Linked DNA regions of Homo sapiens. The protein of the gene in region 2 purifies or fractionates together with the protein of the main gene of each other region. This does not show direct contact. Each region holds a gene or a part of one and is shown on either strand. Other genes may lie near its edges.

Region 1 (2,708 bases), on a different chromosome or scaffold from region 2:
CCCGCATCTTATATTTCAGTTCCATCTGGTGCTGCAGGGGCTGCATTCTCCCATGCTCCTTCTGTTCCTCTAAAAAATAAGCTACTGGCAAACAGAGCAGTGAACCCCAGTCCACAGCAATGCTTCTTGTCCCCCAAGCGAGATCTGCTCTGGGGCTAATTCATTAGGTTTAGCTTTTGTCTCACTTGATCGGAACTTGGGTGGAGATTCCAAGGGCTGGAAGGAAAGGTGGGGAGCTGTGCGGTTCTAAAGGGTGGGAACCACTCCTCAAAAGCGCAACTCTGAGAACACACTGAGAGAAAACAAGCTCAATCTTGGTAGTAGTACGGTCACCATTTACAGATTTCTTTTTACAGCTGCAAAAATATTCCATCAGGTTATCAGCCTCTGACTTCATTTCACTTTGGTAAGTAAGTAAAAATAAAGCTACTGTGAAATGCCATCAGCAATGTGAGCTCACGGCGGGTAGTCCACGTTTGTGAAAACAGACCCTATAGACTGCTCTGCATTTTAGTTTTCATGGAGGCTATTCTAAAGGAAACTTGTTATTTCATATATTTCATATATGGTTATACTTACATGCCAGCTAAACTACACATGCACACAGATTTTAAATAGCATCAGAAAATAAGGTTTTTGTTTACCTTAATACCATTTACCAGTTGCCTTAATGAATTCTGTAAAAATACCCTTGCAGGCTTCTGCTCAGTTACCCAAGAGGGCAACACAGCTGAAAAACCCAGCAGCTGAGGAAGGACCCAAAGAGACTCAGTATGACCCAAAGACTTACAGACACAGCCAAACAATCCCAAGGAGTACACAATATAAATGCTTTATTGCTAGCACAGAGGTTTCTTTTTAAGTAAATTAAAAGAAATAAATCTTCATTTTCACATTTTTTGTTGCAGTCCAAAGGTAACTAGTTGGTTAGTGGCTATGTCCACTTGGACACATGCTACAGGAGGGCAGCATTCACATGGAAGCACTCAGAAATACGGCATCTGTCAGGGCTCACGGCACTGGGCTGCTGAATGCACTGTCGTTTGTAAATAACAGCAAGTGGAGACTTTAAAACATCATGGATAGATAAGAGTTATAAATAGAAAACTGGTACGGTTAAGAAGCAGAAGATCGTTAAATACAGAAGGCTATATATATGTTGCCCATATTCCACATACTCTGGGTTATGTTTGGTACTTTTAAATAAATGATCTGCATTTAGGTTAGAGACTGGATTGGATTTGACAGCTGGAAAGATGGAAGAAGGGATGGAAGAAGGAAAGGAAGCTAACACTTCCCACATCAAACTGGTGGAGTCACTGGAAAGCAGAAGAGGAGTATGTGGATGGGAAGAAAGGGAGGCGGGCCTGCTTTACTCCCTGCAAGCTGTAGGCCATGGCCTGCCCAGTGAGGGGCAAGAATGGGGTGTGACAGAGGAGCTCAGTGGAGCACGGCAGTCCTGGCACAATGGAACTTGGCAAATGGAAAAGGAAACCCCTAGGCTTGGCCAGATTTTCCAAGGTCACTGCCAATAGATACAGGGCACATTATGATAGATGTACAGTGTGACAGACCAAAATCACACCTGCAGCAGTTATTGGTGTAGAGGTTCAGAAGGTACAGATTCCAACTACAGAAATAATTCATTTAATAATAATTGTTGCCCAATATTAGAAACTGAATGATGTCTGCAAGGCATCCAGCATTATCAAATTCTTGGGCCTACTCGGATTGTTTTTTGGTTGGTTCTAAGAAAAACTTTGGAAAAGATCTTATCTAGCTATGAAAAACAACCCACTCCTTGCCTTATTCCAGAATAACTGAGAAGGAATCTAATACACACACACCCCAAAACTGCAGCAAGCTCAGAAGCGGTGAACTGCACATGATGACTTCCAGTCTCTATTGTCCCAATCTTTTTTCATTCATGTTATTTATGGGTAAAAGAAAACCAGATTGGGTCAGGAATATCCCAGGTTCTTACTACATCTGTAGTGTACCAGCTCCTGGCATTTTCATTCTGGTCTGACTCTAGCTAAAACCATTTCATGTTTTGCTTTGAAGAAATGGATAACATGAAATGATAATTTGGCTTTACAACCTTGAAAAATTGTTCCCGGCCCAAACATCTGCCCCAGAATGAGCTCAGCTGACATCTCCTTGGAAGAGAGGGAGGGGTGGGTGAGCGAGGAGGGCCTGGAAGGAGGAAAATGAAGACAGGAGAAAGGTCACCTTTCCTTGAGAGGAAAGTTCTTTGTGACAAAGACATGAAATAATACAGCTCCCTTATTTCATCCTGTGCTCCAGAAGGAGATACTGGATGTGTCTGCTAGCTCCTCCTCCTCCCTTTATCCCACTTTCCCCAATATTTGGTATGATTAAGGTGGCCCCTTACAGAGTGCCAAGAAACTGTACCCAGCTGGTTTGCTTTAGTTGTGCAGTGACCTGCCTGGCCTACATGTTATCTTTTCAATCTTTAAGTAAGGACCGTGGCTCAACTTTGTATTCCTGAGAGCTGGGCCCTACAGAGAAAGCAGAGAGGGACAGACGTGCAGGCTGGGCTTCATCCTCCTTCTTGGCCTTCTTAGGAGTTCTTCTGGGGGATCTTTACTGTCACCGTCTTAACTTCTGAGTACTCCCGCAAGCCAAATTCTCCCCTGAAACACAGAAATGGGCCGGGTCAGATACCAGAAGTCCAGGGAGCTGCA
Region 2 (4,314 bases):
TGCCACTCCACTCCAGCCCAGGTGACAGAGTAAGACCCTGTTTCTAAAAAGAAAAAAATAAAATAAAAACACACAAATCAGTACTATCTTTTTCAATGAAATGTACATTTTCAAGGATATACAAGTGCCAGTTGGTAAAGGGTGGAGGAGAATGGGATGTGGGGATTAAGGGTGAAAGAGAGAAACTAAAGAAAGTAAAACAAAACAAGAGAGAGGTCTTGTACAGTCTGATGATGGGAGTGATACCAATGGGGGAATATCATTGGCTCCATTTTCTACATCTGTGGACCAAGACCAATCCATCAAGCTTAATATGTAATATAAATATTAAAGAATATTTTGATAACAATTTATCATTATATTAACAGATCATTTAATTTAAATATTTCATATTTAATTTATCACACTGAAACTAATCTATTAAATTTCATACATCATAATTTCTGGCCAATCCCTCCCTCACTACTGCCTGCCGCACTTTGTGCCCCGACTGCCCACCTGCACTAGACACATAATGTCGGTACTCACAATTTCGTTTGTTTGTTTGTTTTGTTTTTTGAGAAGGAGTTTCGCTCTTGTTGCCTAGGCTGGAGAGCAATGGTGCGATCCCGGCTTACTGCAACCTCTGCCTCCCGGGTTCAAGTGATTCTCCTGCCTCAGCCTCCTGAGTAGCTGGGATTACAGGCGCCCACCACCAAGCCCAGCTAATTTTTGTATTTTTAGTAGAGACAGGGTTTTGCCATGTTAGCCAGGCTGTTCTTGAACTCCTGACCTCAGATAATCCACCCGTCTTGGAATCTCAAAGTGCTGGGATTACAGGCGTGAGCCACCCCGCCTGGCCACAATTTTTTTTTAAAAGGAGGTCTCCCTCTGTTGCCCAGGCTAGAGTTCAGTGGCGCGACATCGGTTCATTGCAGCCTCGACCTCCCGGGCTCAAGCGATCCTCCCACCTCAGCCTCCTGAGTCGCTGGGATAACAGACGTGAGCCACCGGGCCCAGCTCTATACTCATAATTTGACAATTATGTTTTTATTTCCCCAGAACCTCAAAAAATAAGTTCAGGTGACCCCCCTGGAGACCCCACCCCAGGGTCATTCTGAGAGTACCAACCCTATTTAATGAGATACCTGCATTCACTCACCCCCTCTCCCGCAACCACCCCTTCAGCAAGTCGCGCTCCACCCAATTAGGAGGGGCTTTAGGCTGGGCCTAAAAAGTTGGGCCAAGACCCCACGAGGCAGCATCTCCGCCGGCGTCCCCAAGGCTGAGAGTGGGCGCGTCCGTCAGGAGGAGTCGTCTTTGTGAGCCCGCCCCGGCGGGGAGGAGCTGCCCGGCTCAGGCCCCGCCCACCCGGAGGATCTTGGGGCTGGTCTGAGTCCGCTCCTGAGACGTGACCACCCGCCCCGCATGGGGCCCCAGTCCCAGCTGCTTGATCCGGCTCAGCCCCGAGGTGTTTGCAGCAGCTCTTTATGAAAGTCCAGCCATCTGTTACCTGCGTTGCTTCCTGGGGAGGGATAGTCCACCTGGAGGCATTCGGAGACCCAGTGATTGTGCTCCGCGGAGCCTGGGCTGTGCCCCGCGTTGACTGCCTCATAGATACCCTACGAACCCCAAGTAAGAAAAAACGACGACCCTCTCTCCGTGAGTCTCACTGGGGTGCTGACCTAGAGTGAACCCTGCTTGCTTAGGGCTCCTGACCCAGCGCTTGTCCTTTCTCAGGGTGGATGGGGCGAGACCCCTGCTGGGATAAATGTTTTCCCTGGGGCAAGGGCTGTGCACTTCGCAGCTGCTGGGTCCCCTCCCTAGGATCCAGGGAGACACTCACTACTCCTCTCCATTCTGTGTTTTAGATGCCAGCTGCATGAGAAAAGGGACTCACCTTCTGGTTCCCTGCCTGGAAGAGGAAGAGCTGGCATTGCACAGGAGACGGCTGGACATGTCTGAGGCACTGCCCTGCCCGGGCAAGGAGACCCCCACCCCAGGCTGCAGGCTGGGGGCCCTGTATTGGGCCTGTGTCCACAATGATCCCACCCAGCTCCAAGCCATACTGGATGGTGGGGTCTCCCCAGAGGAGGCCACCCAGGTGGACAGCAATGGGAGGGTGAGATGTCCTGGCTTCCCAGAACAGCTGGGGGCATCTTTGCATCCCCACCACACCGTCCTGGCCTGGCTCCCTGAGAGGGGTTCAGGGGCAATACCTCCTGCAGTCCTAAGGAGGAAGGGAATGGTTAAGGGCGGGTCTTCACGGGGTTTGGGGCAGGCTCTGGGACAGATATGGGTTTAGAGGGTGCAAGGGGCCCTGGAGTGGCCCAGGGGGAAAGCAGGGGATCTGAGCTGCCCCTCCCTCAGACAGGCCTCATGGTCGCATGCTACCACGGCTTCCAGAGTGTTGTGGCCCTGCTCAGCCACTGTCCTTTCCTTGATGTGAACCAGCAGGACAAAGGAGGGGACACGGCCCTCATGTTGGCTGCCCAAGCAGGTGTGAGGCTGCTGCACCCCACTTCCGACAGCCCCCTTTTGATGCAGACAGGGCCTCAGCCCCACCCTTGTTGCACGGTGTTCTACACCAGACTCTGTCATGCTGGGTGGAGGGCGGTTTGGGAGCTTCATCACCCCCTTTCCTGGGGACCAAGCTTACCCTTGCTGCCCTGCAGGCCACGTGCCTCTAGTGAGTCTCCTGCTCAACTACTATGTGGGCCTGGACCTGGAACGCCGGGACCAGCGGGGGCTCACGGCGTTAATGAAGGCTGCCATGCGGAACCGCTGTGAGTGCGTGGCCACCCTCCTCATGGCAGGTGTGCGGGGCCTGGACCGGGGTGTGTGGCCTCCAGTCCCTCCTCCAAGCCTTCCCACCAGACACTAAGTCAGCTGTGATTATTTGCAGAAAGGAGAGAGGTGGAGATGGGGGATCAATCTAGTTCACCTTCCTGGAGGGGGGGGCACATGATTTGGGCTTCGTACAATCAACCAAGTCCTGCTATTGATAGCTCAGACATTGTGTGTGGAGGTCCCAGGAAGGAAAGTGTGGGAGGGGAACCTAGCCCAGCTGGAAAATCTAACACGAAAAAAGGCTGGCATCTGGAACCAGCCCCTGTTCCTAGCTGAGTGGCTTCCCTCTTTGGGCCTCACCAGTATTGTGAGGGTGTTAGCTTTCCCTGGGACTACCTCCAACTCTGACAAGCCAGGCTTCCAGGGGATCCAGGGAAGTGTCGTTGAGGCCTGTGGCTCTGTGGGGTCGTTCAGGGGGAGGTGCGGTGAAGTCCACATTGTCCATGGAGTTGTTTGGGGGCCCTTCTTCCCCGCAGTGGGGCTGCCCTCTGCTGGTCACTCTGGGGGACCCCTGCCTCCATTTTTCCCTTCCCCACACACCCCACTGGGTTTGGAGTGAAAAAGGAGTGAATGAAAAAGGAGGGCGCTCTACACCCTTTCTTTTGTCTTAGAGTGACTGCTCCTCCCACAACCCCAAGATGGGAGAGGGAGATGGTGAGAAGAGAAGAACCAGGAGAGGGAACCAGCCGATCATCCCCACCCACCTGCCCCAGAGGGTGCAGCTCAGGCCTCTGCCTGTCCTGGGCAGCCTGCACCGCTGCTCTGCTCAGCTCCTTGGATTGAGGAGATCCCTATTCTGCCCTAGGTGGAGCCCCACAATAGGTCTCTCTGAAGTCTTTTCCCCTCTCTGGACCTAAGTGTCTTAATCTCTCTTAAACAGGAGGTTGCAACACTGGCCTCCCTGATTCCACCTTCAACAGGATGGGACTCTATGGCTTCGAATGTAACCCACATCAGTCTTGCTCCTAAAGAATCTGCCCTTCCACAAATCACCAACCCCTATCCCGCCCCATGTCACCCCCTGTGCTCCTTCCCAGGTGCTGACCTGACAGCAGTGGACCCTGTTCGGGGCAAGACGGCCCTGGAATGGGCAGTGCTGACCGACAGCTTCGACACCGTGTGGAGGATTCGGCAGCTGCTGAGGCGGCCCCAAGTGGAGCAGCTTAGCCAGCACTACAAGCCCGAGTGGCCGGCCTTGTCCGGGCTCGTGGCCCAGGCCCAGGCCCAGGCCCAGGTTGCCCCTTCACTCCTAGAACGGCTGCAGGCTACCTTGAGCCTCCCCTTTGCCCCGTCTCCTCAGGAGGGGGGTGTTCTGGACCACCTTGTGACTGCCACAACCAGCCTGGCCAGTCCCTTCGTCACCACTGCCTGCCACACTCTGTGCCCTGACCATCCACCTTCGCTGGGCACCCGAAGCAAGTCCGTGCCAGAGCTGTTAGGTACTGCCCCGCCCCCTCCCCTGGTTCCCCAGTCCCCGCCAGGGAG

The links.
Region 1: the proteins of ANKRD33 (region 2) and ALDH1A2 purify together in Homo sapiens (affinity purification with mass spectrometry; one large-scale study listed by BioGRID and IntAct). This does not show direct contact.

The regions. Positions count from the first base shown.
Region 1 is NC_000015.10:57,952,613-57,955,320, forward strand, and holds the end of ALDH1A2 (retinal dehydrogenase 2), read right to left. Parts: intron 2,658-2,708; coding exon 2,585-2,657; 3' UTR 817-2,584; downstream 1-816. UniProt on the Homo sapiens protein: Catalyzes the NAD-dependent oxidation of aldehyde substrates, such as all-trans-retinal and all-trans-13,14-dihydroretinal, to their corresponding carboxylic acids, all-trans-retinoate and all-trans-13,14-dihydroretinoate, respectively.
Region 2 is NC_000012.12:51,886,718-51,891,031, forward strand, and holds the start of ANKRD33 (photoreceptor ankyrin repeat protein), read left to right. Parts: upstream 1-1,385; 5' UTR 1,386-1,469; coding exon 1,470-1,614; coding exon of another isoform or gene 1,615-1,641; intron 1,642-1,850; coding exon 1,851-2,101; intron 2,102-2,349; coding exon 2,350-2,479; intron 2,480-2,654; coding exon 2,655-2,765; coding exon of another isoform or gene 2,766-2,863; exon of another isoform or gene 2,864-3,440; coding exon of another isoform or gene 3,441-3,442; exon of another isoform or gene 3,443-3,709; coding exon of another isoform or gene 3,710-3,772; exon of another isoform or gene 3,773-3,866; coding exon 3,867-4,314. UniProt on the Homo sapiens protein: Acts as a transcriptional repressor for CRX-activated photoreceptor gene regulation.